3 separate regions of the Homo sapiens genome follow, and regions 2 and 3 are each linked to region 1. Evidence: fine-mapped expression QTL. A gene starts in region 1. Each other region holds a variant in brackets. All regions are shown on one strand. Distances are from middle to middle.

Region 1 (10,348 bases):
AGTAGAGATGGGGTTTCACCATGTTGGCCAGGCTAGTCTCGAACTCCTGACCTCAAGTGATCTGCCCGCCTCGGCCTCCCGAAGTGCTAGGATTATAAGCATCAGCCACCATGCCCCGCCATTCTTAGTCTTTTCCGAGTCTGGGCTCTATAATCAAAGAGAAAGTCATTTAGATATGCAAAGAGACCAAGATTCAGATGATTAAACCCAGAAATTGTCTTCTCCCAGGAAGTACAGCTGAGCTCCAGCCAGTCTGTCCCAGGAGGGGAGGACACGATTCAACCACACCTAATAATAACAGAGAACATTCATTAAACACTCAGGTGCTGGGCACTGCTTTAAGCACCTCTCGTATTATTTCCTCATTTATTTCTTCCTACAATGCTACGAGGTAGGTAAAAAAGAACGACCTAACACTATTTAAACTCAGGGGGGTAGAACGTAGCAATTAACATTTCATTCTCATGGCAACAGAGGGGGATGCAATGGAAAGATGGAAAGTGGGAGAGGTTATTATTCAGTAACATGCACTGTGATTTTCCATCACCAGCCTGGAGGTAGACACAGGTTACCCAATCTAGGCTCTGTAAGCACAGTGCAGCACTGCAGAGCCCAGGAAGGCCAGGCTGAGACAGACTGACAACATTATGCGCCACCCTCTGTGCTAAAGCTTCAAACAGCATCTCAGATAATCTTCATAACAAACCTCTGAGCCTGACATTGCTCATTTTAGAAAAGAGGAGATGGCAGCTGGGCATGGTGGCTCACTTCTGTAATCCCAGCACTTCAGGAGGCCAAGGCAGGAGGACTGCTTGAGGCCAAGAGTTTGAGACCAGCCTGGGCAACACAGTGAAAGATGCTGTCTCTCCAAAAAATAAAATAAAACATTAGCTGAGTATGCTGGTGTGCACCTGTAGTCCCAGCTACTCAGGAGGCTGAGGCTGGAGGTGTTGCTTGAGACCAGAAGTTCGAGGCTACAGTAAGCCATGATCACACCACTATACTCCAGCCTGGAAGACAGAGTGAGACTCTGTCTCAATAAAAAATAAATAAAAAATTTTAAAAAAGGAGATGGAAATTCAGTGAGCCTAAGTGACTTGCCCAAGGTCAGACAAAGGCGGTTGGCTTCTAAACTAGGGACAAAGTGGCCAGTATTTGAGAACATGAAGACTGAAACTTGGATGATTCAGGAGCCAGGCAAATTCCCTGGTATCAGAATGCAAAAAACAATCAATGATTCATTATCTCTTCCTAACAGGAGAAAGACGAAGGGTCAGGACCATTTACAACCACTGGTGGCCAGGTGCGGTGGCTCACGCCTATAATCCCAGCACTTTGGGAGGCCGAAGTGGGTGGATTGCCTGAGGTCAGGAGTTGGAGATCAGCGTGGCCAAAATGGTGAGAAACCCCGTCTCTACTAAAAATACAAAAACAAACAAACAAAAAAGGCAGGTGAACGTGACTATTAACTAAGTTCAGACAGGGCCAGGGTGAATGCCTAGTGCAGTGCTTGGCATACAGTCAGTGCCAAGAAATATGCAGTCAATCCTTATTACTCATGATTCCATATTTGTAAATTTGCCTCCTCACTGAAATTTATTTGTAACCTCAAAATGAATACTGGCAGTGCTTTTTGTTTTGTTTTGTTTTGTCTGAGATAGAGTCTTGCTCTGTCACCCAGGCTGGAGTACAGTGGTGTGATCTTGGCTCCCTTCAACCTTCACCTCCTGGGTTCAAGCGATTCTCGTGCCTCAGCCTCCCAAGAGGCTAGGATTACAGGCGCACACCACCACACCCAGCTAATTTTTGTATTTTTCGTAGAGAAGGGGTTTCATCATGTTGGCCAGGCTGGTCTTGAACTTCTGGCTCAAGGGATCCACCCGCCTCGGCCTCCCAAAGTACTAGGATTACAGGTGTGAGCTACCACGCCTGGCCTGCAGTGCTTTTGAGGTCATTAGTGGACACGTCCACAACAGCAAAAAGTGGAGTCACCTGCCACGTACATTCCCAGCTGAGGTCAAGCAAGGTGACACCGAGCCTTCCTGTTTCATCCTTTAAACAAGTGTCACTGTGGTCTATTTAGTGCCACGTTTATGCTTTAGTTTGGTGATTTTACTGTTGAAAATGGTCCCCAAGTGTAGTGCTGAAGTGTTCTCTAGCGTTCCTAACCATGAGAAGGCTGTGATGTGCCTTATGCAGAAAATACATGTGTGTGATTAGCTTTGTTTAAGACATGAGTCATAGTACTGTTGTTGGCCCTGAGTTCAACGTTAATGATCAACAATATATATTAACATGTCTTTAAACAGAAATACACATAAAACGAGGTTATGTACTGATCAGCTGACAAAAATGTTGTGAACAGGAGGCTCACAGCAACTGAATCCTGTATTTCCCCTAGGAGCGATGGTTTGGTATGTGCTAATTCAGTGTCTGCAGTAACTTTATAGAACGTAACTACCATGGTTAATGAGAATCAGCTGTAAATGTGGAACAGGCAGGAGGACCCTTCTTACTGAGCTAACTTTTAATAACAAGAGTCCCCGCCAGCTGGCGAGAAAGCTGCTTGTCCAATTTAAAAATAGCTTGGTAAATCCACAAAGAGTGCCAAATAAATTCTGGAGCAAGTCCAGAATTTATTGTTGTAGATTGCAAACAAGCATCTCTTCGAGTAGACCCGCTGTGCTATCCAATACAAAAAAAAATACACCACAAAATAGTTCATTTTGTTACATATACATATGTATTTTTATAGGTATATTGCATAGAAAAAAGGTCTAGAATGACATACAAAATGTTAACAGTATTATCTCTGAAAGCTGTTTTCTTTTCCCTGACAAAATGCTGAAAGACATATAGAAGAAAGCAATAAGGATAAATATGCAAGAAAACATAACGCTATCTGAAGTCTCATTGCCACTGAGTGGCCACTGAATACCTAAAAAGTGGCTAACTCGAATTGAAATGTGCTAGAAGTGTAAAATATGCGCACGGGGGGTTTTGAAGAGGGAGTTCAAAAAAGAAGGTACAATGTTTCAAGAATCTTTTTTCATTAATAATTTTGTATAAATGATTACATGTTGAAATATTTTTGATATCTTAGGTTGAATAAAAACATTATTAAAAATAATTTTTTTTTTTTGGAGACGGAATCTCGCTCTGTCGCCCAGGCTGGAGTGCGGTGGCACAATCTCAGCTCACTGCAACCTCCGCCTCCTGGGTTCAAGTGATTCTCCTGCCTCAGCCTCCCGAGTAGCTGGGACTACAGGCCTTACCACCACACCTGCTCATTTTGGTAATTTTAGTAGAGATGGGGTTTTACCATGTTCGCCAGGCTGATCTCGAACTTCTGATCTCAAGTGATCCACCCACCTCAGCCTCCCAAAGTGCTAGGATCACAGGCGGGAGCCACTATGCCCAGCCAAAATTAATTTTACCTATTTCTTTTTACTTCTTACATGTGGCTACTAGAAAAATTCTAAATTACATACGTGACTCACATCATATTTCTATCGGACCTGGATTCCTAGTGGAACAATGAACTCAAATCTTGAAGTAGGCTTTTGTCTCTCATTTTCAGGGTAACAGATAGGGCAAAATTCACAACAAAACCAAACAAAACCAAAAAAAGGATGATATCTGTTGCACAGACTTCTTTATCCAGCTAAAGAATTGCATTTGCCATTAGTGGCAAATGACTCAATGTTGGCTTAAGGGATGTAATTGGAAGTATTGTGTGCGACTCCCAGAAGTCTCCTTAAATTGTAGGTGGCTTGCACTTCTCTCTTCCCCCCTCCTCAAATCCTGTTGCCTGAAAGATGGATACAATGGCTGATGCTCTTGCAGTCATCTCAGACAAGGAGTTTGAAGGTCACAGCATAGACATGGCAGGGCGGTAAGCCAGAAAGATTCTTGACTTACCTCCAAATTCCTTCTACTGGAGAAAGAAATAACTTTCTATCTTGTTTATGCTAGTGTTATATTGGGATTTTCCATTATACATAGTGATTGGAAACTGACCTTTGAGTTATTCTGGAAGGAGTCTATCAGCAGAGACAGCTTCTTCTGCAGTTCCTGCAAGTCCCTTGAGATACTCTGGGGCTCCTCTTTTGCCATTCTGAAGCTCACTTCAATCTCTTTAGGGATGAATTATCCTACCAGTAAATTCTCCAGTGCAGCCCGCGGTCCAATCTCTCATGTCGCTCTGTCTCTTGCTGTTACCAGAGGAAACAAAAGCCGTTAGTGGTCTTCATCCATCTGGTTCGACGAGAGCTTCTACCATCCTCATACCTTGATGGTGGGCATGCAGACGGAGGGTAACCTGGCAATATTCACAACAATTTCAGATTGCACACACTTCAATCCAGGAATTTATATTCCAGGAACATGATGGAAATAATCCAACAGGTATCTCAAAATGTACTAAAAGGCTGTGCATTGCATCCCTGTTTATAACATATAATGACTAGCAAAACATTGGAAAGTAGCTAACTGTATTTCCATTAGGAGAAAATTGGTTAAATAATGATAAATTCAGTCATTAAAATGATAGTGTGACTGTTTAGTGATGTGAAAAGATGTGTATGATACTTTTAAAAAAAGATGATAAAATGTTAATAGTATTATCTCTGACAGCTTATGTTTATTTTTTAGCTTGACAAAATGCTGAAAATATACAGAAAGCAAGAAAGCTGAACACACTATTTCAAATCTCATTGCCTTTTATTCTCCCTAGAAAGCTTTCCTTGTACAACAGTAGCCTTGACCTGTTTCTCTTCTTTATTACTGTACAGGTTGGCTCCCAATTCCATCATTCCATACATCATCATCTACTTACTTGTGGGTAAGTCTATCCCTGCTAAGGAGAACTGCACCTCGGGGGCAGACCTCACCACAGTAATTATACTCTAACTAAACTGCCTGGAATTTTGAGGGGTGTCCCAATCTCATACAATTTTTACTTATTTTTAATAAAGGCAATTGGTTAAATTAGATATATTTTTTAACCCTTGTTGAGTTTTCAAATATAAAAAAAAAATCATTCTTATTTTATATTTCCCAGAACTGGCTGGACACAGAGATATCTTTTCCATTTCTCCCTTTAAACTGACCTGACCTACAGTACAAATGCTTAAAAGATTGTGTCCACGTGGCCAAAATTAATTGAGAGATCCTCACATTTATTTATCATATAGGGGGTAATTTTATCTACTACTAAGCTGTACAGGGTCTAGTATGCAAATTAAAGCACATTTTAATCATCCCAGCTAGACATCCTCTGCTACTTCCCTTTTGTAAAACAAGAAACCCTTTGGAGGGGAAAGTTGAGGAGGGGACTAATCCCACCACCCCACATTCTCTCTTTGAAGCTGCCTCTGGCGTAGGTCTTGAACTTGGGATGTTCCCAGCACTCAGTTCCCATAATCTCATCTCTGCAGCAAGCAGAAACAAGCGGAGTTCCCCTTACAGGTCTCCTTTGGCCTGGGAGCCTCAAGTGCCACCCAGACCGGTTTGGGGAGTCCGATGAGAGAGTGCGTGGGGCGAATGCCATCGGCCACAGCCTTCAAATGCGTCTACCTGGCCACCAATTCCCAGACCCCCTGGTCACTCACTCCTCGGAGGGGCCTCCCCAGGCACGGAGCTGTCTCCCGAGAAGGGAAAGCGAGAACCCGGCGCGGCCAAGGAGTGCCCCGCCTTCTTCACGCCTGGGGGACTGGGCCAGGCCAACACCAGCTAACCCTTTCCCCTTCCAAGGCTCCAAATAAATCTCCTGGCCCTCCCACCCCCGAACCTCCAGGGGAAAACGGCTACCTCGAAAGTTCAAGCTGGGAGGAGGGGTCACATCTCTGGTTGGGGGATGGGAGCTACAGGGCGCCTCGAGCTCACACTGGCCGCCCCTCCCCATCCGGGCCCAGCCTTTCAGCGTTCAAAAGCCAGGGAGACCCAAGGAGAGGAGGAAGGGAGTGAAATGCAGGTGGAGAGGGGGTCCGCGTCCCAGAAGGCACAGAGACTGAATAATGGGAACTCAGAGGGGAGTCGAGTACTTAGTTATTAATTTGGGGGTAAAGAAGCCCCCTTTGATACTTGCAGATCTCTCTGCAGCGATGGGGAAGGGGACCTCGGTGGAGAAGAGGGGCTGGGTGGTGAGGAAGGCGCCCGTTTTCAATAATCCTAGGGAGGTTTGCCTCGACGTCTTCCCCAGGTTCCCCAGAAAGGGGCACAGTCTCGGGGTGTGGTGGTGCTAGCTACCATTTTACCTAATCTAGTGGTAGTGTGTGTGTGTATGTGTGTGTGTGTTGGGGGGTGGCGGGGTGAGTGTGCATTTAGGGGTGGGGAGGAATCGTGTCTCCTCGTGCGCTCCCAGCCCCGTCCCGGCGACTCATAAGCAGGAGACGCCCCTTACACTAACCCCGGGGCAGAAAGCTACGGGCGTGGGACCCCGATAGCGCGCTCACGCCGTCGCCCCCGCGCTCCTCCTCTGTCCCCGCCCGGCGAGAGGGGTCTAGCCACCCGGGGCACCCGGACCCCCACCCCCAAGCTCCGAGCTCTCACCTGCTCCTGACCGCCGAGCAGCCCCCACCGCGTTTGCAGGCGAAGCGAAGAGAGGCAGGAGGAGGAACAAGAGGAAGAAGGAAAGAGCGTCCCGAGAGGGAGCCAGAGCCGCCTGCCTCCGCCCCCTGGCCCGGGCACCGCCCCTCGGCTCTTCTCCTCTGGGCTCGCCCCGCCCGTGGCCGGAAGGATCCGGCAAAGGCGCGCCAAGGCCCGGCGCCCAAGGCTTTGCAAAGCGCGCTCGCTCCCACTGGCTTTCGGAGCCACTAGAACAAGCCCTGAGAGGTTGACAGCTGAGGAAACTGAGGCTCAGAGAGTGTCCCTTCCCACACGACTGGCTTGGAGTGAGAAAGCTCAGACCACCTTCAAGACAGGCAGACTGGCAGCCGAGAATGAGTTTTCCAAGGGTGTCAGGGTTTCCCCTCCTGTATGCCTAAAACCAGCTGCTCTGGAACGTCTCTGGCGCTCAAGACACACACGTGATGAAGTATCACCCTGGCTGGAAGTTTTTAACCATGACTGCTCAAATGCGAATGTCATAAGCCAGTGAGATCCTTTCAGATGGATTGGATGTCCATTTTACACATGAAAAAGTCCAGGCTGAGAGAGACAAGATAAATCAATCCAAATTCCTCGGTTTGCATGGATCCAAGTCGGAGCAGGAGCCCCTGTTTCCCCTGGCCCCAAATCTGCCCTATAGAGTAAGGTTTCTGAATAGTATGCTATTGACATTTGGGGCGGAATAATTCTGTTTCTGAGCTGTGGATTGTAGAATGTTTAGCAATATCCTAGCCTCTACCCATTAGATGCCAGTTACAAGAACCGCCCCCCCCCACCTCCAGTTGTGTCTCAAAATATTGCCAAATGTCCCCTGGAAGGCCCCATCGTCCCGAGGTGAGAACCACTGCTATAGAGCATGATGGCAACTTACTGTGTGACTAAGTAACCTCTCTGAACCATGGCTTCAACCATAAATTAGAGAGAGGGATAAGCCCAACCATTGGTCTGCTGTTGCACAGTTCTCAGCCACTTTCCAGACAGGGACCTGTGTTGACCGACCTCTCCTCTTTGCCTGTGGCCATAGCAACCTGGAAAATAAGTCTTTAGATAACAAAAAGCTGGCAGGGTGCGGTGGCTCACACCTATAATCCCAGCACTTTGGGAGGCTGAGGTGGGCAGATCACTTGAGGCCAGGAGTTCCAGACCAGCCTGGCCAACATGGTGAAACCCCATCTCTACTAAAAATATAAAAACTAGCCAGGCATGGTGGTGCGCACCTGTAATCCCAGCTACTCGGGAGGCTGAGGCAGAAGTATCGCTTGAACCTGGGAAGTAGAAGTTGCAGTGAAGACACTGCACTCCAGCCTGGGCAACAGAGTGAGACCCTGTCTCAAAAAAAAAAAAAAAAAAAAAGAAGCAATCACAGGGTTGTAGTGAGGACTGGTGCAATAGTGTGGCTGTGGCTGTCGAGAACTTAGCACCTATTGAGGCACAGAGTAGGGGCTCAAAAATATTTGCTTGGGATGATGATTTATGATGATGATCACGACAATGATATGATAAACCACAGAATCCTGCTGTAATTCCACAATAGCAGAAAGAAGAGCTAATGGTGGGGATAGGACAGACAAGAATCCCTAAATTCTTAAGTTTTAGCCAATCTTGTCTGGCGTCATGCACTTTGTTCAGCTGCAAAATGCTGGGTTCCCCACCCAGGAAAAGATTGTGTGTGTGTGTGTGTGTGTGTGTGTGTTTCCTTAGATTACAGCCTTCCAATCATCATTCCCTAAATGGAAGTTGCTTTGGAAAGCTGAGTTAGGGTTTCCACTGGGATTTTTGTTTAAGAGTGCCATCTAGGGGCGTCTCTGTGAATCTTCAAATTCCTTCCACCTCTGGCATTTTTGGCTGGGCCAGCAGAGTTTTGCTTGTCTTTGTGTGATAGATGCTTCCTCCATCACATCATGTGTTCCTCCAGGGCTGGGATCCTAGCATCTCTCCATAGCATCAGGACTTGGCCCTCAAGGAACATGCAGTGGTTGGGTTAAAAAAATCCACGCGCAGCCTCTCCTATGCTTTCCCAATTACTTGCTGCAATGGACTGAATGTCTGTTCCTCTAAAATCCTAACCCCCAATGTGATGGGATTAGGCATGGGGTTTTTGGGAGGTGATTAGGTCATGAAGGTGAAGCCCTCCTAAATGGGATTAGTGCCCTTATAAAAGAGATCCCAGTGGCTCACACCTATAATCCCACCACTTTGGGAGGCCAAGGTGGGTGGATTGCTTGAGTCTAGGAGTTCGAGACCAGCCTGGGCAACATGGCGAAACCTCTTCTCTACTAAAAATACAAAAGTTAGCCGGGCATAGTGGCACATGCCTGTAGTCCCAGCTACATGGGAGGCTGAGGCAGGAGGATCTCTTGAGCCCAGGCAGTGGAGGCTGCAGTGAGCTGAGATTGCACCACTGCACTCTAGCCTGGGCAACAAAGTGAGACCCTGGCTCATTAAAATAAAATAAAATAAAATAATAAAATAAAATAAAATAAAATAAATAAAATAAAATAAAATAAAATAAAATAAAATAAAATAAGAATAACTCCCAGAGAGCTCTCTTACCCTCTTTCCACCATGTGAGGATACAATGAGAAGTTGGCAGCCTGCAACATGGAAGGGGGCCTTCACTGGAACCAGACCACCCTGGCACCCTGATTGTGAACTTCCAGCCTTCAGAGCAGTGAGAAATAAATGTCTCTTGTTTATAAGCCACCCAGACTTTGGTACTTTGCTATAGTAGCCTCCAAGGATTGAAACTGTTGCTCTGCTTAAACAACTATTTTAGGCCTCAGGAATGAGCTGCCAGGAATACCAGCCTCTGAATAAGAAATGTGTGAAATTTTTTTAGCAACAGATTAAGACCCTAAACTCTTGATAACAAGAGGCAGGGGCAACTTGGAACCTTGCTGACCTCTGCTCCCCATGTTGGCAGATTTGGCAAATAAAAACACACGACACTCAATTAAATCTGAATTTCAGGTAAATAATGGGTAACTTTTTAGTACAAGTACAAGTACAGCCCATGTATTGAATGGGACATGCTTATACTAAAACTTTTTTTTTTTTTTTTTTTTTTTGAGACGGAGTCTTGCTCTGTCTCCCAGGCTGGAGTGCAGTGGCGCTATCTCGGCTTACTGCAACCTCCACCTCCTGGGTTCAAATGATTCTCCTGCCAAAGCCTCCGGAGTAGCTGGGATTACAGGCATGTGCCGCCACGCCCAGCTAATTTTTGTATTTTTAGTAGAGACAGGGTTTCACCATGTTGGTCAGGCTGGTCTCAAACTCCTGACTTTGTGATCCGCCTGCCTCGGCCTTCCAAAGTGTTGGGATTACAGGCATGAGCCACTGCTCCCGGCCCTAAAACATTCTTTTACCTGAAAAATTGTTTGACTGAAACTCTAATTTAACTGGGCACCTTCTGTTTTGTCTGGCAGCCCAATTGAGAAACAAGGCCGGGCATGGTGGCTCATGCCTGAATCCCAGCACTTTGGGAGGCGGAGGTGGGCAGATCACTTGAGGTCAGGGGTTCGAGACCAGGCTGGCCAACATGGCAAAACCCCATCTCTACTAAAAATACAAAAATAAGCCAGGTGTGTTAGCACACGCCTGTAATCCCAGTTACTGGGGAGGCTGAGGCAAGAGAATCACTTGAACCCAGGAGGTGGAGGTTACAGTGAGCCGAGATCATACCACTGCACTCCAGCCTGGGCAACAGAGCAAGATTCCATCTCAAAAAAAAAAAAAAAAG
Region 2 (10,716 bases), 170 kb before region 1:
CCCTGGGATGCAAGGCTGGTTCAGCATATGCAAACCAATATACATAATCCATCACATAAAGAGAACCAGTGACAAAAACCACATGATTATCTCAGTAGATGGAGAAAAGGCGTTTGACAAAATTCAACAGTACTTCATGCTAAAAACTCTCAATAAACTAGGTATTGACGGAACGTACCTCAAAAAAATAAGAGCTATTTATGACAAACCCACAGCCAATATCATACTGAATGGGCAAAAACTGGAAGCATTCCCTTTGAAAACGGGCACAAGACAAGGATGCCCTCTCTCACCACTCCTATTCAACATAGGGTTGGAAGTTCTGGCCAGGGTAATCAGGCAAGAGAAAGAAATAAAGGGTATTCAATTAGGAAAAGAGGAAGTCAAATTGTCCCTGTTTGCAGATGACATGATTGTGTATTTAGAAAACCCTATTGTCTCAGCCCAAAATCTCCTTAAGCTGATAAGCAACTTCAGCAAAGTCTCAGGATACAAAATCAATGTGAAAAAATCACAAGCATTCCTATACACCAATAACTGACAAACAGAGAGCCAAATCATGAGTGAACTCCCATTCACAATTGCTTCAAAGAGAATAAAATACCTAGGAATCCAACTTACAAGGGATGTGAAGGACCTCTTCAAGGAGAACTACAAACCACTGCTCAATGAAATAAAAGAGGACACAAACAAATGGAAGAACATTCCATGCTCATGGATAGGAAGAAACAATATCGTGAAAATGGTCATACTGCTCAAGGTAATTTATAGATTCAACACCATCCCCATCAAGCTACCAATGACTTTCATCACAGAATTGGAAAAAACTACTTTACAGTTCATATAGAACCAAAAAAGAGCCCGCATCGCCGAGACAGTCCTAAGCCAAAAGAACAAAGCTGGATGCATCATGCTACCTGACTTCAAACTATACTACAAGGCTGCAGTAGCCAAACAGCATGGTACTGGCACCAAAACAGATATGTAGACTAATGGAACAGAACAGAGGCCTCAGAAATAACACCACACATCTACAACCATCTGATCTTTGACAAACCTGACAAAAACAAGAAATGGGGAAAGGATTCCCTGTTTAATAAATGGTGCTGGGAAAACTGGCTAGCCATAGGTAGAAAGCTGAAACTGGATCCTTTCCTTACACCTTATACAAAAATTAATTCAAGATGGATTAAAGACTTAAATGTTAGACCTAAAACCATAAAAACCCTAGAAGAAAACTTAGGCAATACCATTCAGGACATAGGCATGGGCAGGGACTTCATGACTAAAACACCAAAAGCAATGGCAACAAAAGCCAAAATAGACAAATGGGATCTAATTAAACTAAAGAGCTTCTGCACAGCAAAAGAAACTACCATCAGAGTGAACAAGCAACCTACAGAATGGGAGAAAAGTTTTGCAACCTACCTATCTGCCAAAGGGCTAATATCCAGAATCTACAAAGAACTCAAAAAAATTTATAAGAAAAAATAAACAACCCCATCAAAAAGTGGGCAAAGGATATGAACAGATGCTTCTCAAAAGAAGACATCTATGCAGCCAATAGACACATGAAAAAATGCTCATCATCACTGGTCATCAGAGAAATGCAAATCAAAACCACAATGAGATACCATCTCACACCAGTTAGAATGGCGATCATTAAAAAGTCAGGAAATAACAGATGCTGGAGAGGATGTGGAGAAATAGGAATGCTTTTACACTGTTGGTGGGAATGTAAATTATCTCAACCATTGTGGAAGACAGTGTGGTGATTCCTGAAGGATCTAGAACTAGAAATACCATTTGATTCAGCAATCCCATTACTGGATATATACCCAAAGGTTTATAAATCATGCTACTATAAAGACACATACACACGTATGTGAATTGCAGCACTATTCACAATAGCAAAGACTTGGAACCAACCCAAATGTCCATCAATGATAGACTGGATTAAGAAAATATGGCACATATACACCATGGAATACTATGCAGCCATAAAAAAGTATGAGTTCATGTCCTTTGCAGGGACATGGATGAAGCTGGAAAGCATCATTCTCAGCAAACTATCACAAGGACAGAAAACCAAACACTGCATGTTCTCACTCATAGCTGGGAACTGAACAATGAGATCACTTGGACACAGGGTGGGGAACATCACACACCGGGGGCTGTCGTGGGGTGTAGGCTGGGGGAGTGATAGCATTAGGAGAAATATCTAATGTAAATGACGAGTTGATGGGTACAGCAAACCAGCATAGCATGTGTATACCTATGTATCAAACCTGCACATTGTGCACATGTACCCTAGAACTTAAAGTAAAATTTTTTCAAAAAAAGGGAAGTTCCATCTTAAAGGGAAATAAAAAACAGATCTGCCTGGGCGAGGTGGCTCACGCCTATTGGGGAACCTGCCCCCAGTAGTCACGTAGGTTCTTTTCTATTTTCCCTAAGCGTCGGCCAGGTTGAGAAATAAAGGGACAGAGTACAAAAGAGAGAAATTTTAAAGCTGGGCATCCGGGGGATACATCACATGTCGGTAGGTTCTGTGATGCCCCACAAGCCGCAAAACCAGGAAGATTTTATTAGTGATTTTCAAAGGGGAGGGAGTGTACGAATAGGGTGTGGGTCACAGAGATCTTGTGCTTCACAAGGTAATAGAATATCACAAGGCAAATGGAGGCAGGGTGAGATCACAGGACCACAGGACTGGGGCGAAATTAAAATTGCTAATGAAGTTTCGGGCACCATTGTCATTGATAACATCTTAACAGGAGACATGGTTTGAGAGCAATTGGTCTGACTAAAATTTATTAGGCAGGAATTTCCTCATCCTAATAAGCCTGGGAGCACTATGGGAGACTGGGGCTTATTTCATCCCTACAGCTAGACCATAAAAGATGGCCACACCCAAGGGGGCCATTTTAGAGGCCTACCCTCAGGCATTCTCTTTCTCAGGGATGTTCCTTGCTGAGAAAAAGAATTCAGTGATATTTCTCCCATTTGTTTTTGAAAGAAGAGAAACATGGTTCTGTTCTGCCCAGCTCACCAGCAGTCAGAGTTTAAGGTTATCTCTCTTGTTCCCTGAACATTGCTGTTATCCTGTTCTTTTTTCAAGGCGCCCAGATTTCATACTATTCAAACACACATGCTCTACAATTTGTGCAGTTAACAAAATCATCACAGGGTCCTGAGGCGACATACATTCTCCTCAGCTTACGAGATGACAGGATTAAGAGATTAAAGACAGGCATAAGAGATCACAAGGGTATTCATTGGGGAAGTGATAAGTGTCCATGAAATCTTCACAATTTATGTTTAGAGACTGCAGTAAAGACAGGCATTAAGAAAGTATAAAAGTATTAATTTGGGGAACTAATAAATGTCATGAAATCTTCACAATCCACGTTCTTCTGCCATGGCTTCAACCGGTCCCTCCGTTCGGGGTCCCTGACTTCCCGTAATACACGCCTGTAATCCCAGCACTTTGGGAGGCTGAGGCAAGCAGATCACCTGAGGTCAATAGTTTAAGACCAGCCTGGCCAACGTGGTGAAACCCCGTCTCTACTAAAAATACCGAAAATTAGCCAGGCATAGTGGAGGGCACCTGTAATCCTAGCTACTCAGGAGGCTGAGACAGGAGAATTGCTTGAACCCGGGAGGCGGAGGTTGCAGTGAGCCGAGATCTCGCCATTACATTCCAGCCTGGGCAGCAAGAGCAAAACTCCACTCAAAAGAAAAGAAAAGAAACCATCCATGAAATTCATTCAAAATCCTACAATAAGAGAATCTCTAGTAGAGAAAATACTAAGAAATTAAGGAACAATACTACTTTATTGTTTCAATATTTGAGGCAATTATGTTTCAATATTTGAGGTGATCAATCAATGAATTTAGCCTAGATTAAACTTAATCTAATTGAAATTTTAAAAGACTGGGGTGTCATTTGTACTCTTCTAAGCCAAAGTAGTTAGTCATTTAAAATATCTGTATGTGGAATTGTATACACTAAAGATTTTCTTAGGAGTAAATGTGTTTGATGTAAACAGGATATCAAAGGCTTCAAAAGCCTGCAGGGGAAAATGAAATATCATGCGGTTTTATTACTCAGATTTAAATGGCTTGATTGTCACAACTCTTCCTGCAGCAAATCCCCAATAGTCTGATTCTCAAAAGCTTCCATCGGGAGCCTCATCATTGCCAATGTAGATGGAATAGCTTGAGAGAACATCAACATCCTCACCAAAGGTACTATTCCATGCTTCTCAAGTCCCCGTCTCTCAACAGGGTTTCCACTCCCTGCCACACTTGTCACCTGGACTCCAACGTATCACTAGTTCTGAATCTCAAAAAGACTAGCATACAGTCAGTTCCCTCAGCTACTTTGCTCCACTCATTTTTTGCACAAAAAACTATGAAAAACAAAGCAAAATAAAAACATAACACTCAACTCCAAAGATTTAGCCCCCATCCTGGACAAGTGTCTTTTCTGTATGTAGGGATCCTGGGTGGAGACCCTTGAGTTTTGAGCCTCCAAAACATCTGCATTTAGGTGAATGCGGTGGTTGGGCACTTGCTTTATATTTGCATAAAAATGAGGCATTCCTATAGTTCTCATAAACAAAGAAACACCTTTATCCAAAGGGAAGAGGGAAGAATGAGGTCAGATTCTGGAACTGACCTGGATTCTGGTGTTCCTGAGTTAATATTTATTTAGCCTGAGAGGTGACTGTGCATTCACAATGATTTATCTCCAAGACATGTACTGTAAGCCCTCACTTATCATCATCAATAGGTTCTTGGAAACTGTAACTTTAAGTGAAATGATGTATAACGAAACTAACTTTGCCATAATCTAATTGATATAAACAAGAGTTAAGGGCCAGCATGGTGGCTCATGTCTGTAATCCCAGAACTTGGGAGGCTGAGGCAGGGGGACTGCTTGAGGCCAGGAGTTTGAGACCAGCCTGACCAACATGGTGAGACTCTATTTCTACAAAATTAAAAAAAAATTAGCCCAGGAGTAGTGGCCCACATCTGTCATCCCGGTTACTTGGGAGCTTCAGGTGGGAGGAACACTTGAGCCCAGGAGTTTGAGATTACAGTGAGCTATGATTGCACCACTGCACCCCAGCCTGGGTAGCAGAGCAAGACCTTGTCTCTGAAAAAAATTAAAAAAAAAAAAAGAGTTAAGTTTTTATTGTATATTACTGTTTTCTTTTTTCGGGGGTCAGAAAAACATCACCAAACATCTAAATAAATACCAAAACACTTCTAATATTAAACACTGAAATAAATAATGTGAGCCATATATACATTTAAGACAGATTAACAAACACAAGTAAAATAATGATTTAGATAGTTATTCCAGTTCAGGGTCGCAGGGGGCCAGAGCCTGTCCCTGCAGCTTAGGGCACAAGGCAAGAACCAACCCTAGACTGGATGAATGCCATCACGGGGCACAGTCACGCACACCTCACACTCACTTAGACTGGGACAATGTCAACACGTCAATTCCCCTAAAGTGCACATCTTTGGGATGCAGGAGAAAATTGGAATGCCCAGAGAAAACCCACACAGATACGGAGAGAACATGCAAGCTCCA[C/T]ACTGACAACAGCCCGGGCTGGGAATCAATTTCTTTTTTCCCATCAAAATTATAACAAAATGACGTTGGACAAAATGACATTATTCAAGGGCCTGCTGGATTTGAGGCAGCCACTGAAAGAAAGGATCCAGCCTCCCTGACTGCTTTTTATACCCAGATTTCCATGTTGATCTCTAGTCAGCAACATAATCATTCCCCAAAGTTGATGAAATTTTGATAAGAGTAACAGCTTTCATGATGAGATGAATCAGACATCTCTCAGCTTCATGTGTGACTCCATATGACCAGCTTATACTTGGCTGCCAATGTTCTAAATCACTCATCAGCTTCAAAGAACCCAAGGGCACACACCAGGACAAGGCTTCATCTGCGCTTGCCGCTAATCATGGTAACTCATGGCTGAGGGTGTGCCCAATATTTTGGCACCAACCTGAGCCCCTTACTGCATCTCAAACAGGCTGGGGATGGTAGGTATCAAGGATAGTCCAATTAGTTTTGAAAAAACAGTAAATGTACTGCTTTTCTAGTCCATAATGCTAACAGTTGTGATATATTGTGATACAACTATGGTGTCAGAAAAACATGCAATTGCCCTTAGGGACTGTCACTGATGATACATTTTGATATAAAACTGCAGATTTTGGCCAGGTGTGGTGGCTCATACCTGTAATCCCAGCACTTTGGGATGCAGAGGCGGGTGGACCACTTGAGGCCAGGAGTTCAAGACCAGCCTGGCCAACATGGTGAAACCCCATCTCTACTAAAAAATACAAAAAATTAGCTGGGCGTGGTGGTGCATGCTTGTAATCCTAGCTACTTGGGAGGCTGAGGCAGGAGAATCCTTGAAACTGGGAGGCAGAGGTTGCAGTGAGCCAAGATCGCACCACTGCACTCTAGCCTGGGCGACAACTGCAAAACTCTGTCTCAAAAAAAAAAAAAAAAAAAAAAACCTGCAGATTTATTATTGTGAGGAAAGGGTAAATAGCAAACATAAATCCTATTTTCCTGGACCCAGGTGTACCCACTAAGATAACTATGAGTTTACTCTCTGGCAGCACTGTGCCTAGGTATGTGCTGAGTTTAAAAATACAGAATGTTAGCAGTGCCTGGAACTCATCATCAACATTGTTTGCTGCCATATATCTCGTCTAGAGACTACACTTGACTTGAGAAGAAAGTAAGTAGGACTTTGCACAAATTCTGGCAAACAAAAGTGGAGGCTTCCATATAATTACAGAGTCTACACCGTATCGACCTCAGCTCTTGAACTGAATGTGCCCTGTGTACTGGTGGAACGTACAGCTGCACCTGTGCTGTTGGGAGACTTTCATATGAAAGTGCTGATGCTGTACATGTTATGTTCCCATCCTGGACACCATCCATTTTCATCATTCTTGGTTATGTTCTATAAAGTCATCACAGACACTTGAGTTAGGGAATACTGAAAGATTACTCCTAGGGAAAATACTCCTAGGTTCCTGCAAGCCTCTGGTCACATTTTCATCAATTGATCAATACACGACCTGTTTTTTGGGGTGTTTCCGTTTAAAGACACCTTATTTAATACATACTGTTGATTCACTAACACTGACCTCACAGCCAGCAGCAGTATAACTCATGCCTGAATTAAGCTTCTCTAACATAGATATTTTCTCCAAAAGACATAATCAGGGCCAGGCACAGTGGATCATGCCTGTAATCCCAGCGCTTTGGGAGGCCAAGGTGGGCAGATCCCTTGAGATCAGGAGTTCTAGACCAGCCTGGCCAACTTGGTGAAACCCCATCTCTCCTAAAATATAAAACTGTAGCTGGGTGCAGTGGTGTGTGCCTGTAGTTTCATCTACTCAGGAGGCTGAGACAGGAGAATGGCTTGAGCTGGGGGAGGTGGAGGTTGCAGTGAGCCGAGATCACGCCATTGCACTCCAGCATGGGCAACAGAGTAAGAATCTGTCTCAAAAAAAAAAAAAAAAAAAAAAAAAAAAGACATAATCATAGCCCTTTTGCACTTAGGAACATGAGACAGTACTTCAGCACTATGCCTGGGGCTGACATTAAACAACAAAATCACCAACATAAAGAACAAAGATGCAAAAAAAAAAAAAAAAAGGCACTAACTATATCAAGTCAAGAATACTTGTTTGCAGTATGAGGGTTGAAACAAGGTGGACAGGGTGTCATCTTCTTTGACCTGGCCAAGGCTGGGAACCACCCTTGGAGAACTCAAAATTTTTTGCCACTCCCTGCATGTCTGCAAATGACCTCAAAAGTGAAACAGTTACTGATTTTGAGTTACACATAAATTTTAGTGAGTTGTTGAATTCACAAATTCAGAATCCACAAATAATGACAGTTAATTCTACTTTCTTAAGACAGTTTAATCTGATGGTAGCTTAAAGTATATTTGGATTGCTATCCAAACCTAAGAACATTGTTGGTGGCTATGAAATTACGCTGAGGGGTCATAATCATCACTTTTGGTAAAACTGCAAAATACCAGATGCAAAGCACCTGATCTAATCTCCCTTTCTCAGGGGGTAGGCAAAGCTGGCACATAAATTTCAAAGCTGAAAGTAGCTTCTTGGGGGCTGGAATCAGGGGGGAACCTACAAGAGCTGGTCAGGAGCAGGAGGAGACATGGGCCTCAGAGAATTCAAATCATCAAAGTTGGTAAAACTAAGTCCACTCTTAAGAATAAAAAAGGTAGGCTGGGCGCGGTGGCTCACGCCTGTAATCCCAGCACCTTGGGAGGCCGAGGTGGGTGGATCACCTGAGATCAGGAGTTTGAGACCAGCCTGACCAACATGGATAAACCCCATCTCTACTAAAAATACAAAATTAGCTGGATGTGGTGGTGCATGCCTGTAATCCCAGCTACTCGAGAGGCTGAGGCAGGAGAATTACTTGAACCTGGGAGGCAGAGGTTGCAGTGAGCCGAGATCACACCATTGCACTCCAGCCTGGGCAACAAGAGTGAAACTCTGTCTCAAAAAAAAAAAAAAAAAGGACACAGCTGGAAATAGAACATAATATCAAAATTTAAGAGCTAGATGCTGGAAATGGAATATAACATCAAACGTTAAAAGCGGCCAGGCGCAGGGGCTTACGCCTGTATTCCCAGCACTTTGGGAGGCAGAGGCAGGTGGATCATTTGAGGTCAGGAGTTCAAGACCAACCTGACCAACATAGTGAAACCCTATCTCTAACAAAAATACAAAAAAAATAGCCAGGTGTGGTAGCAGGTGCCTGTAGTCCCAGATACTCAAGAGGCTGAGGCAGGAGAATTGCTTGAACTCGGGAAGTGGAGGTTGCCAAGTGAGCCGAGATTGGGTCACTGCAGTCCAGCTTGGGTGACAGAGTGACACTCCTCCATCTCAAAAAAAAAAAAAAAAAAAAGGTTAAAAGTTAGGTGGAAGTGAAATAAAAGGGAAGAATCACAAAGAACAAACCCAGAATGCTCTTGAGTTCCAATAAAGCTGAAATATTTGCAGTTGGCCTTTATGACTAGGCAGGCTTAAAACCACAAGATCCAGGTGGGAAGATTAAGATTAGAGAGGAAAGACAGGATTGATTTCCTTGGACCAGGTAGTTGAAGGCAGAAAGTTTGGTTATTTCCATTGCCTTGAATGAATCCAAGATGCAGTAATCCACATTTCAAATGGACAGGTTTACAGAGGAGATAGACATGGTTTCCTGTTCAAAATGTTTCCTCTACTGTTCATTTTGTTTCATATTTTGTATTACTATTTGGGAAACAGAAGACACGTTGGAAGTATTGCTAGATGCTACAGCTTTTCCAAATAGTCACTGGCAGGCTGGCCTTATGGTGATACTCAGCACAGATGGTGGCAGAGCAGAAAGTTGTGTTTCCTATAGTAATAATAAATCCAGTCTTTTTTTTTTTTTTTTTTTTTTTGATGGAGTCTCATTCTGCCGCGCAGTCTGGATCGCAGTGGCACGATCTCGGCTCACTGTAACCTCCACCTCCCAGGTTCAAGTGATTCTCCTGCCTCAGCCTCTTGAGTAGCTGGGATTACAGGCATGCACCACCACGTCTGGCTAATTTAGTATTTTTAGTAGAGATGGGGTTTACCCATGTTGGTCAGGCTGGTCTCAGTAATAGAGTAGCTGGAACTATAGGTGCCCGCCACCACACCCAGCTAATTTTTGTGTTTTTAATAGTAGAGACGGGGTTTCACCATGTTGGACAGGCTGCTCTCAATCTCCTGACCTCATGATCCACCCGCCTTAGCCTCCCAAAGTGCTGGGATTACAAGCATGAGCCACTGCACCCGGCTGGCCAATAAATCTAGTCTTTACTGAGTACTTACCATGTGCTGAGAACTGCTCTAAATACTTCACATATACACAACTACCCTATAAATAAGACACTATTATTATTTTCATTTTCCAAGTGAGGAAGTATAGTTTATTTTGGTTTGTCCTAGAGCAGGGGCCCCCAAACCCCAGGCCATGGACTGGTACCGGTCCATGGCCTGTTAGGAACCATATCACACAGCAGGAGGTGAGCGGCCGGTGAGCGAGCAAAGCTTCATCTGTATTTACAGCTGCTCCCCATCACTTGCATTGCCAGCTGAGCTTTGCCTCCCATCAGATCAGCGGAGGCATTCGATTCTCATAGAAGCGCAAACCCTATTGTGAACTACGTATGTAAGGGATCTAGGCTGCAAGCTCCTTTTGAGAATCTAATGCCTGATGATCTGTCACTGTCTCCCATCATCCCCAGATAGGATTGCCTAGTTTCAGGAACACAAGTTCAGGCCTCCTGCTGATTTTACATTATGGTGAGTTGTATAATTATTTCATTATATATTACTATGTAATAATAGAAATAAAGTACACAATAAATGTGATGTGCTTGAATCACCCTGAAACCATCCCTCTGCCACTGGTCTGTGGAAAAATTGTCTTCTATGCAACTGGTCCTTGGTGCCAAAAAGGTTGGGGACCATTGTCCTAGAGAAACTGCTGTAGAGCGATATTGATGTATGGAGCTGGTGATGCACTGGTTATATGATGTGAAGCTTCAGAGGTCTTTGATCAAGAGCCATTTTACATTCCCATCACTTGACATCTAAAATCATTCTTTT
Region 3 (10,716 bases), 210 kb before region 1:
CAGCACTTTGGGAGGCCAGGGTGGGAGGATCACTAGAGGTCAGGAGTTCAAGACCAGCCTGGCCAACACAGTGAAACCCCATCTCTACTAAAAATATAAAAAATTAGCTGGGCATGGTGGCAGGTGCTTGTAATCCCAGCTACTCGGGAGGCTGAGGCAGGAGAGTCGCTTGAACCCAGAGGCTTGGTAAGCAGAGATTGCGCCACTGTACTCCAGCTTGGGCGAAAGAGCGAGACTCCACCTCAAAATAATAATAATAATAATAATAATAATAATAATAATAATAATAATAATAATATAATGCCTGCCTAGGTTACAGGCCTGAAAGCCCACATTATCCTTGGAAAAGGCTAGGAGGCTAAAAATGCCCCACAAATCTAGATGGCAGTTGGGGTAGGGGTGTCAAGGAAGCCTACAGGGCCTGTCCAAGGTCATCTAGCCAATAAATGGTCCAGCCAGGGCTTAAAAGCAGGTCTCCCGAGTCCAGCTTCCAAGCTCTCTCTGACTTCCTGTTAAGCAATGGAAACCAAAAATCCCCAGTGCCATAACTTCCCCGCCAGGTCATTGAATTCTAAATTAATCAAGGAAAAAGTCAATTTCACTAAAGCAAAGTCAGGGATACATGACCTGTAGTTGGGTGAGAGACTGGAAAAATTAGCCACTGAAGTGACTGAATACAACTGACAGAAAGAAAGAAGAGGAGCATTTCCAATATACTTTCCCAGAAAATGTTAGTAGACGTACAAACCACATGCTCAAGCTGACATTCTGACTGCACCTGATTCCTAAAATCATAATCCTTTAAAAATCTGAGCCCGTTTTCACGCATCTAAATGAATGTGTTTTCCCAACATCCAGCTAGGGAAGTGGCTGGTGATCCAGGTAAAGTCAACTGTGATTCTTACCTGCTGGACTGACTTCTCCTTGTTGGTCACTTCAACTTTGAGACTGAGTATGTAACTCTGAACTACCCGTAAATGATATGCTGGAAGGAGCTTCACAGAAACTCACTTCAAAAAAAAGGAGTAGGTCAGACACAGTAGCTCACACCTGTAATCCCAGCACTTTGGGAGGCCGAGGTGGGAGGATCACGAGGTCAGGAGATTGAGACCATCCTGGCTAACATGGTGAAACCCCGTCTCTACTAAAAATACCAAAAATTAACCAGGCATGGTGGCGGGCACTGGTAGACCCAGCTACTAGGGAGGCTGAGGCAAGGAGTATCGCTTGAACCCAGGAGGCAGAGGTTACAGTGAGCCAAGATCGCACCACTACACTCCAGTCTAGGCAAAAAAGCGAGACTTCTTCTCCAAAAAAAGGAAAGAAAGAAACAGGAGTGTGTTTTCCTTAACTAAAGCTGGTTAATGCCCTAGAGGTCCAGACATTCTCAGCCTCCGAACTCCGACCGTGAGCAGTACACAGGTGTCGTCAGTGTCAGTCCTCCTGGCTCCCAAGCCCTCCCATTTTGGACACATAGAGTCTTGCCATACAATTGAACAAGGAGCCACAGGCAACAGAGAACTTTAAGGGTATTTTTAAGAGCCCCAGTGCACAATCCCAGAAGATCTGAGACATTACCAGTAGAGAGGTGACCACAGCAGTAGATAAAGCAGAAGAGGAGACCTAAACTAGGGAACACAGGGCAAGATATAAAATCAAGGGAACATGCCACACTACTCACAAACTGCCCACTTATTGAATTCAGTGAAATTTCACTGTTGAAGATCTGGGCGGTGCTGATCAGGAAGTTACTTAAGGAACCAGAACAGGATTCATCAGGGTCACTCCGTATCACTCAAGGACACAAAACAACTTGTCTAGTCCACCATTCTCAGAGCAAAAGTAATGGCCACGGCCAGGCACAGTAGCTCACGCCTGTAACCCCAGCACTTTGGGAGGCCTAGGCGGATCACCTGAGGTCTGGAGTTCGAGACCAGCCTGGCCAACATGATTAAACCCCGTACGCACTAAAAATACAAAAAATCAGCTGGGTATGGTGGTACACGCCTGTAATCCCAGCTACTCAGGAGGCTGAGGCAGGAGAATCACTCGAACTGGGGAGATGGAGGTTGCAGTGAGCCCAGATAGCAGCAGTGCACTCCAGCCTGGGCAACAGAGTGAGGCTCCGTCTCAAAAACAAACAAACAAACAAAAATGACTTCCTTCCCCAATGTAAAATTTCCATGTGTTTTTCAGTTTGGGATTGAATGAATGCAAGAATCCCAAATTAAAATTCTGCACCTGTCATGGTAGCTCATACCTGTAATCCCAGCACTTTGGGAGGCTGAGGCGGGAAGATTACTTGAACCTAGGAGTTCGAGGCCAGCCTGGGCAACACACTGAGACCCCATCGCTACAAAACAATTTTTTAAATTAGCCAGGCAGGGTGGCATACACTTAGGGTCCTAGCTGCTCAGGAGGCTGAGGTGGGAGGATTGCTTGAGCCAGGGAGGTCCAGGCTACAGTGACCCGTGTTCATGCCACTGCACTCCAACTTGGGAAACAAAGCAAGACCCTGTCTTTAAAAAAAAAAAAAAAAAAAAAAAAATCCAGAAAGTGAAGAGGAAGCTATGTCCTAGGACAACAGCTCTCTCCACATCCAAGCTGGCTGTATGCAAGTGCCATGCCGAGCCCGTTACAGGCAGTCTCTCAATGATTCTCCCCCAAGTTTCTCCACAGCTCAGCAGAACACTCCGGAGCTGTCAGAGGGAGGCCCACTTGCCCCAGATCGGGGAACTAGGATGAAAATCCAGGTGGTCTGACTACAGACTCCAAGATCTTCACCCCTTGCTCCATCCCATTCCAGGTCCCATCCCGGCCACGTACCTGAGCCTGCAGCGGTCGGCCAGGAGCATGTGCAGGTAGCACTCCAGGGAGTGTTCGTTGAGGGCACAGCGCAGCCAGGCGCGGCCCCAGCCCACGTCTGAGGCGATGTGGCGCAGGGAGTAGAAGCGCTTGCAGCTCGTGCTTGTTGAGGACCTCCTTCACGTAGTACCAGAACACGGGCTCTACGGAGAGAGGGTGCAGGCGCCTGGCACTCGGCCTGGGGCACTCAGCACTGGGAGAGGAACACACAAAGCCTCTAGGCAATGTTGGAGATTGTAACAGAGTATCCCCTTAGCATGGAAAAGGTAGGAGATAACACCAAAGACATGGTATCAACCCAGATACTCATCAATAGTGGACTAGATAAACAAAATGTGGTACATTTACACAAAGGAATACTATGCAGCCATGAAAAAGAACAAAATTGTGTCCTATGCAGCAACATGGATGACTGGAGGCCATTATCCTAAGCGAATCACACAGAAATAGAAAACGAAATAGTGGATAGTCTCACTTATAAATGGAAGCTTAACACTGGGTACACACAGACATAAAGATGGCAAACAACAGACACTGGGGGCTGCTAGAGAGAGTAGAGAGGGAGGAGAGCACGGACGGAAAAACTACCTACCAGGTACTATGTTCACTACCTGGGAGATGGGTTCAATCGTGCCCTGAACCTCGGCATCACACAATGTACCCAGGTAACAAACCTGCACATGTACACCCTGAATCTAAAATAAAAATTGAGGCTGGGAACGGTGGCTCATGCCTGTAATCGCAGTACTTGGGAGGCTGATGTGGTGGATCACTTGAGGCTCGGAGTTCAAGACCAGCCTGGCCAACACAGTAAAACCCCATCTCTACTAAAAATGCAAAAATTAGCTGGGCATGGTGGCGCACACCTGTAATCCCACCTACCGGGCAGGCTGAGGCAGGAGAATCACTTAAAACCAGGAGACGGAGGTTGCAGTGAGCTGAGATTGCACCACTGCACTCTGGCCTGGTGACAGAACAAGACTCAGCCTCAAAAACAATAATGAAATAAGAAAAAAAGGTGGGAGATACAGAAGAGTATATCAAAAATAAAAATGACTCTAAAACCTCTCATCCAGAAAAGACCAATATTGACATTTTCAAGAATTTTCAGTCTTTTTTACTGCACTTTTCTTTTTTATAAAAAAAATCAACATTTGCTGTAGGCTGAATTATAATCCTCAAAGATATCGACGTCATAAGCTCCAGAATTCTCTGAATATTACCTTATATAGTAAAAGAGTCTGTGCAACTGTGTTAGGATCTGGAAACTGGGAGGTTATCTTGCATAATCCCTGTGAGGCTGATGTAATCACAAGATCTTCATAAGAGGCAGGCAGAGAGAAACTTGACACAGAAGAGGAGGACATGATGTGGCCAGAGAAGCAAAGACTAGAATGGGGCAGCCATAGCCAAGGAAGGTGGGCAGCGAGCAGACTCTGGAAGGGCCAGAAACGGATTCGGCCCTGAAGCCTCTGGAAGGAAGCAGCCCTGCTGTCACCTTGACTTTAGCCCAGTGAAATGGATTGGGGACTTCTGGCCTCCAGAACTGTGGGAGAATAAATTATAGTGTTTAAAAGCCACCAACTGTGTATTACTTTGTTACAGCAGCCAGAAGAAAAGAACACATCAGGCCAGGCACAGTGGCTCATGTCTGTAATCCCAGCACTCCAGGAGGCCGATGCGAGCGGATCATCTGAGGTCAGGGGCTCGAGACCAGCCTGGCCAACATGGTGAAACCCCATCTCTACTAAAAATACAATAATGAGCCAGGCATGGTGGCAGGTGCCTGTAATCCCAGCTACACAGGAGGCTGAGGCAGGAGAATCACTTGAACCCAGGAGGCAGAGGTTGCAGTGAGCCGAGATCGCACCACTGTACTCCAGCCTGGTCGACAGAGCAAGACTCTGTCTCAAAAAAAAAAAACAGGCTGGCGCGGTAGCTCACGCCTGTAATCCCAGCACTTCGGGAGGCCAAGGCAGGCAGATCACGAGGTCAAGAGATCGAGACCATCCTGGACAAAATGGTGAAACCATGTCTCCACTAAAAATACAAAAATTAGCTGGGCATGGTGGCACACGCCTGTAGTCCCAGCTACTTGGGAGGCTGAGGCAGGAGAATCACTTGAACCCAGGAGGCGGAGGTTGCAGAGAGCCAAGATCATGCCCCTATACTCCACTCTGTCTCAAAAAATAAATAAATAAAACCACATCATATTGTATGAGTGTATACGCATACATATTTGTATGTGTAATTTTGTATCCTGATTCATTTATTTTCTTGTCTAGAGCATGAACATTTTCCTATTACAATTAAAAGTCTTTCAAAGATGATTTTTGATGGCTTTCCAGTAAAACAACTATTTCCATACTGCTAAGGGCATGGCACATGGCCAACTTTCCCTCTGTACAGTAAAGAACACCCCTATACATAAATAATTGTCCTCATTCCTAGTTCCTTAGGAAAGATTTCCACATGTCAAATTACTCAGTCTGAGGATAGGAACAGATTTAAGGCGTTATGGGAAACCTAAGAAAGTTTGTTTTTATCCATAAGACGGTCATTCCTACAACTACTTGTATCTCCTCACATCCCACCACTTTTTATCCACATGTACACAGATTTTTAAAATTTTTTATATACATTTTAAGTTAATTATTATTTATTTATTTTTGAGACAGGGCCTCTCCCTCTGTCACCCAGGCTGGAGCTCACTGCAGCCTCAACGTCCTGGGCTCAAGTGATCCTCCTGTCTCGGCCTCCCATGTAGCTGAGACACAGGCACGCACCCCCATGCCCAGCTAATTTTTTAATTTTTATTTATTTGTAGAGATGAGATTCTGCTATGTTGTGCAGGCTGGTACCAAACTCCTGGCTTCAAGCGATCCTCTTGCCTGAGATTCCCAAAATGCTAGGATTACAGTCAGGAGCCACCTTGCCCAACCCCAGATATTTTCATAGTTGTAATGCTAGTGTATACATAATTTTGTGATCAATTTTCTTCACTTAACATTGGCTCTTTAACATTTTTTCATGCTGGCAATAATAATAACAGCAGCAACAGCAA[C/A]TACTATTTACTGAGCATTAACTATGCACCAGCCATTGCAGTAAACACTTTACATCTGACATCATCACAACCAAGGCCATCTCCATGTGAAAGACAAGGTCTGAAGCCAGGACAAGTGAAGTGACTCGCCCAGCAACACAGTTAGTAAACAGTATGGCAGAAAGGGACCCCAGAGCTCACTGCAAACCACTAAATCACACTGCCCTGCAAAATGAGGGGACTTGGCCCTCTTCAAAATGATCACGTTCACAACTGTTTAATATTCCAAGTGGGGGAAGCTGAGTCTTTGCAGTCGGACCTGGCTTCCAATCTAGGAGCTAAACAGGCTCACAGTCCCCTCTGAAATGTGACAAAGGCTTTGAACCTGCCTTCCAGAAGGAGGCAAGTACACCCATCTCCAGAAACTGCATGGCAGGCTAGTTAAGTTCACTCTAATGTTTCAATTCAACTTCACTAGGATCCACTGCATTCTTCCTGGGAGCTGTGAACCAAGCTAGGCTATGTGTCACCAGCTAGAGACAACAAGAACTCGTCCCTAAGGGGCTTCCAGTCTAGCAGGCAGGACAACAGAGAAAAAGTCCATTCAACCAAATGACCTTGAGCAAGTCACTCAACCATGCTAAGCCTGAAAATCCTCTCCCATAAAATCAACACAAAAGTGCAGAATCGCCCAGGGTTACTGGGGTAACTAGAAAGGGAAGGAAAGCACCGAGCACAGTGCCCAGTCCATGATGACCAATCAGCATTTGCTTAATAATTAATTCTCTTCATAGCAGAGGGCATTCGCGTGGGTTCCTTTTTGTGTTAGCAGCATCTAAATGTATACATCCGTATGAGCGTGCATAAGTATTTGTGGATCAAGACAATCACTGGGATCATTTAGGATAAACTTCCCAGGAATAACAAAAACCAGCAAGAGGGCAGGTCCCTCAAGACTGTCTTCTGTCTCAATCCCTAAATGTCAAACTAATCCACTTCCCAAGCTCATCCGATCAGTCTAATCCACACAACTGTACAAAACAGCCTTCCTTCCACTCTCCGCCTCACTCAGAAACCAGGACGGGGAATCTGGCGACAACAACGCCCTGGGCCAGCCGGCCAACAACGTATTTCAAAATACCCCAGACCATTGTCGGTACGTCCATCACATTTCCAGTCAAGTGACTCTCACTTGCAGCCTGTCTTGAAAAATGCAGTCACCTCCCTCCGACCTTGAATCTACATGAACGCTTTAAAGTGTGTTTTCACCTTTCAATTCTGCAAAATTGCTTACTGCTACAGAATCCTTTTAAAGCTTGTCAGGGTGATGCTGCTGATGATAAGAATTATCCCAGCAGGGTTCCGCTTCCACTGCCAGAGTTAATGTGGTCTATTTAAAGGGCAGCTCACCTGCCAATTAGCGCCTGCGGTGTCCGTAATTTAATTTAGGGATATACACTGATCTGCTTTGAAACATGGGGTTAAGTCAAAAAGCGGGCAAGGGCTTCTGGTTCTCCAAACACCTGAAAGCCGAATGCCAACAAGAACAAGTGCCAGGAAGGGGTGTTGAGAAGAGCTGCCCCGGGACACCTATTAACAGAGGATGACTAACAGCACCAGGCTTTTGGGAAAGTTTCTATCAAGACTTAACTATCACCGATGCCCAAGAATTCATTCCTTGGGGACCACAAGGAAGACAAAAACCTTGTCCCAAATTCTAGTTCAGGCACTGTGTGACCTTGGGAAACTTATTTTGTCCTCTACTTTCTTCATCTGTACAGTGGGGAGAACAGTACCTATGTGTATGGATTGCTATGAGGGAAAAATGAGAAAAAGGAATACATGTAAAGTGTATCCAATAAATGCAGTGAATAAATGTTAGCCATAGTTATTAACATACCTGGCATATAATTGGTGCTCAACGAAAACCAACTATTAATATCACTACTACACGTGCACCAAACAGCATTCCTTTTCCTTGTTTGGGGTTTTGTTTTGTTTTGTTTTGTTTTTGAGGGGTGGGGTGCGGACAAGGTCTCACTCTGTCGCCCAGGCTAGAGCACAGTGGCACGATCATAGTTCACTGCAGTCTTGAACTCCTGGGCTCAAGCGATCTTCCCATCTCAGGCTCATGAGTAGCTGGGACTACAGGTGTACACCACCATACACGGCTAATTTATTTTTTTCTGTAGAGACAAGGGTCTTACTATGTTACTCAAGCTGGTCTTGAACTCCTAGAATCAAATGATCATCCAGCATCGGCCTCCCAAAGCACTGGGATTATAGGCGTAAGCCACCGAGCCTGGTCCCTTTCCCTTTCTTCTAGTAAGACCACCCCTCTTTCCTATGGGAAACACATTCCACTGGGATCCTTCAGCACTATCCTAACCTCCCCCTACTGCAGGGGTGGACAGCTAACCCAGGGCAGGCAATTAACTGGCCGGAACCATGGCATATGCAACTTTCATTTTTTTTTAATATTACATAAAAATAGTATTTATCTTGATTGATAAGTTTTTTGGTACCGCCTTCAATTTTGTGGCCAAAGTGAGTGTGTCACTAACCTCACCCCAGTCTCAGCCCTGGACCACAGGGTCCCTTCGCACAAGTTCTACCAGAGCCACCAGAAAAGAGGCCTTGTCTCCTCCAGGAGCTGAGGTCAGCAAACAATGGCCTGGGGGTCAAATTTGGCCTCCAAACTGTTTTTGTAAGCACAGTGGTCTTGGAACGCAGCCACACCCATTTGCTCCCATATGGTCTGTGGCTGAGTTTCTGCTCCAGTGGCAGAGCTGAGTCACTGCGATGGAGATTGCATGGCTCACAAACCCTATAATATGACCCATAAGGAGGGAGTGTGCCGACCCCGTCCTAGAAGTAGGATCTCTCATCATCCTGGAAACCTGGAGCTACTTGGGGCCATTTTCCACCCCATCATGTAGAGACCCCCCACCTGGAAAGACACCCAACCACAGAGAAGCGGTGCTGAGGGATGACAGATGGAGACAGATTTGGGAGAAGGGCAGGCCCCCTGAATCCAGCTCAACTCCAAGATGATTTCTTAGATACTTGAGTCAATAAATAAATGTCCTTCATCTTTTTTTTTCTTAAATCAATCTAAAGAATTTTCTATCATTTGCAACCACAGGAAATAATGCAGTGAGACAGGGCATGTTCTTCAGTCATCTGACAATCATCTATAGAAGACCAAGAACACACCAAGTGCTGAGCAACACCTGTGCTCCACAGCCATGGGGGGTGAGGGGTGTCTCATCAATGTGACAACACTGCCCCAAAACAAAGCATTGCTCAACAACAACAAAAAAAACAGAAAACCCGCCGGGCACGGTGGCTCACGCCTGTAATCCCAGCACTTTGGGAAGCTGAGGCAGGTGGATCACGAGGTCAGGAAATCGAGACCATCCTGGCTAACACGGTGAAACGCCATCTCTACTAAAAATACAAAAAATTAGCCAGGTGTGGTGGTGGGCGCCTGTACTCCCAGCTACTTGGGAGGCAGAGGCAGGAGAATGGTGTGAATCCGGGAGGCGGAGCTGGCAGTGAGCCGAGATGGTGCCACTGCACTCCAGCCTGGGCAATGGAGCAAGACTCTGTCTCAAAAAAAAAAAAAAAAGAAAAAAACAGAAAACCCAAGACCAGCCTGGGCAACATAGTAAGAACCCATCTCTAAAAAAAGGAAACAGAAAACCCAACTACAAGGAGCCGAGTGTGGCAGCACACACCTGTAGTCCCAGCTACTTGGGAGGCAGAGGCAGGAGGATGGCTGGACCCCAGGAGTTTGAGGCTGTAATGAGCTATGATTGCACTACTGCACTCCAGCCTAGTTAACAGAGCAAGGCCCTGTCTCTAAAAACAAAACAAAACAAAAAAACCCACACACAAAGAAAATCCAACCCCATGGAGCTGGGCTAGTCTGGAAATAGGCCAGTGATACAAAGGCTATGTCAGGCCAAAACCTCCAACCTTTTGACCTCGCTGTCACAGAGGACTGTCCTAACTTTGGGCATCTCATTTACAATTGAGCAGGAAGAAAGGGAATGGGATGAAGCCAGCTTTATCGCCCCTTTTATCAGGAAAGAACAAGTAATCCCAGAAAATCACAAGGGAGCAAAGAAAGCAAAGAACAAAACTCAAAACTGGCTTAATCCCTCACCGAGATAAAGGAGTACATACCACAGCCTCAAGCAAAATCTGGGTTCTATCAAAGCCAAAGAAGACAGAGGGATGAATCTGAGGGCACACTCTAACAGAATCAGCCACACATGGTATCAGCCATGCCAGGAACAAAGGTAAACCAAGTTCACTCATGTGCCAGCCTGAGAACTCAGTGAATACAAGTGCTCCTAAATCTGTCACATCCCAAACTGAGCCAGCCTGACTGCAAGGCACAAATGGATTGGCAGAGCAGAGTGCCAACAAGGGGCTGAGCTCTGTCACTCTACCATCTTCCAACTAGCCACAAGACTGCCTTCCAGAACCAGGGCTCAGCATAACACACCCGCATCCTACAAGAGTTTACAGCATACCACCTCCTTTATTAAAGAGTAGGAAATAAATTAACCAGGCACAGTGGCATGCATGTGCAGTCCCAGCTACTTGAGAGGCTGAAGTGGGAGGATCGCTTGAGCCAGGAAGTTCAAGGCTGCAGAGAGCCATGATTGCACCACTGCACTCTAGCCTGGCAACAGAGCAAGACCCTGTCTCTTATTTAAAAAAAAAAAAAAAAAAAAAAAAAAAGGAAAATTTCTAAGAAGGACTTCTAAAACTTGTATCTCACTTCCTTTTAGGGG

Evidence for each region.
Region 2: its variant is fine-mapped to the expression of LDAF1 in whole blood (INTERVAL, PIP above 0.99).
Region 3: its variant is fine-mapped to the expression of LDAF1 in whole blood (INTERVAL, PIP 0.92).

What each region holds. Positions count from the first base shown.
Region 1 is chr16:21,154,951-21,165,298 of GRCh38, reverse strand. LDAF1 (lipid droplet assembly factor 1) reads right to left here and starts at 6,625. Exons shown (of 5, transcript NM_001301771.2): 1 at 6,553-6,625; 2 at 4,021-4,214. The coding sequence starts at 4,116. It also overlaps a transcript of DNAH3 not described here. RefSeq lists enhancers at 5,344-5,493, 5,628-6,128 and silencers at 6,386-6,565, 6,616-6,745.
Region 2 is chr16:21,320,650-21,331,365 of GRCh38, reverse strand. No RefSeq gene overlaps it. Among named protein-coding and RNA genes, the nearest start is that of CRYM, 48 kb to the right of the region's middle. The variant C/T (reference allele first, on the strand shown) is at 5,609.
Region 3 is chr16:21,368,940-21,379,655 of GRCh38, reverse strand. It overlaps the pseudogene SNX29P1. Among named protein-coding and RNA genes, the nearest start is that of NPIPB3, 51 kb to the left of the region's middle. The variant C/A (reference allele first, on the strand shown) is at 5,930.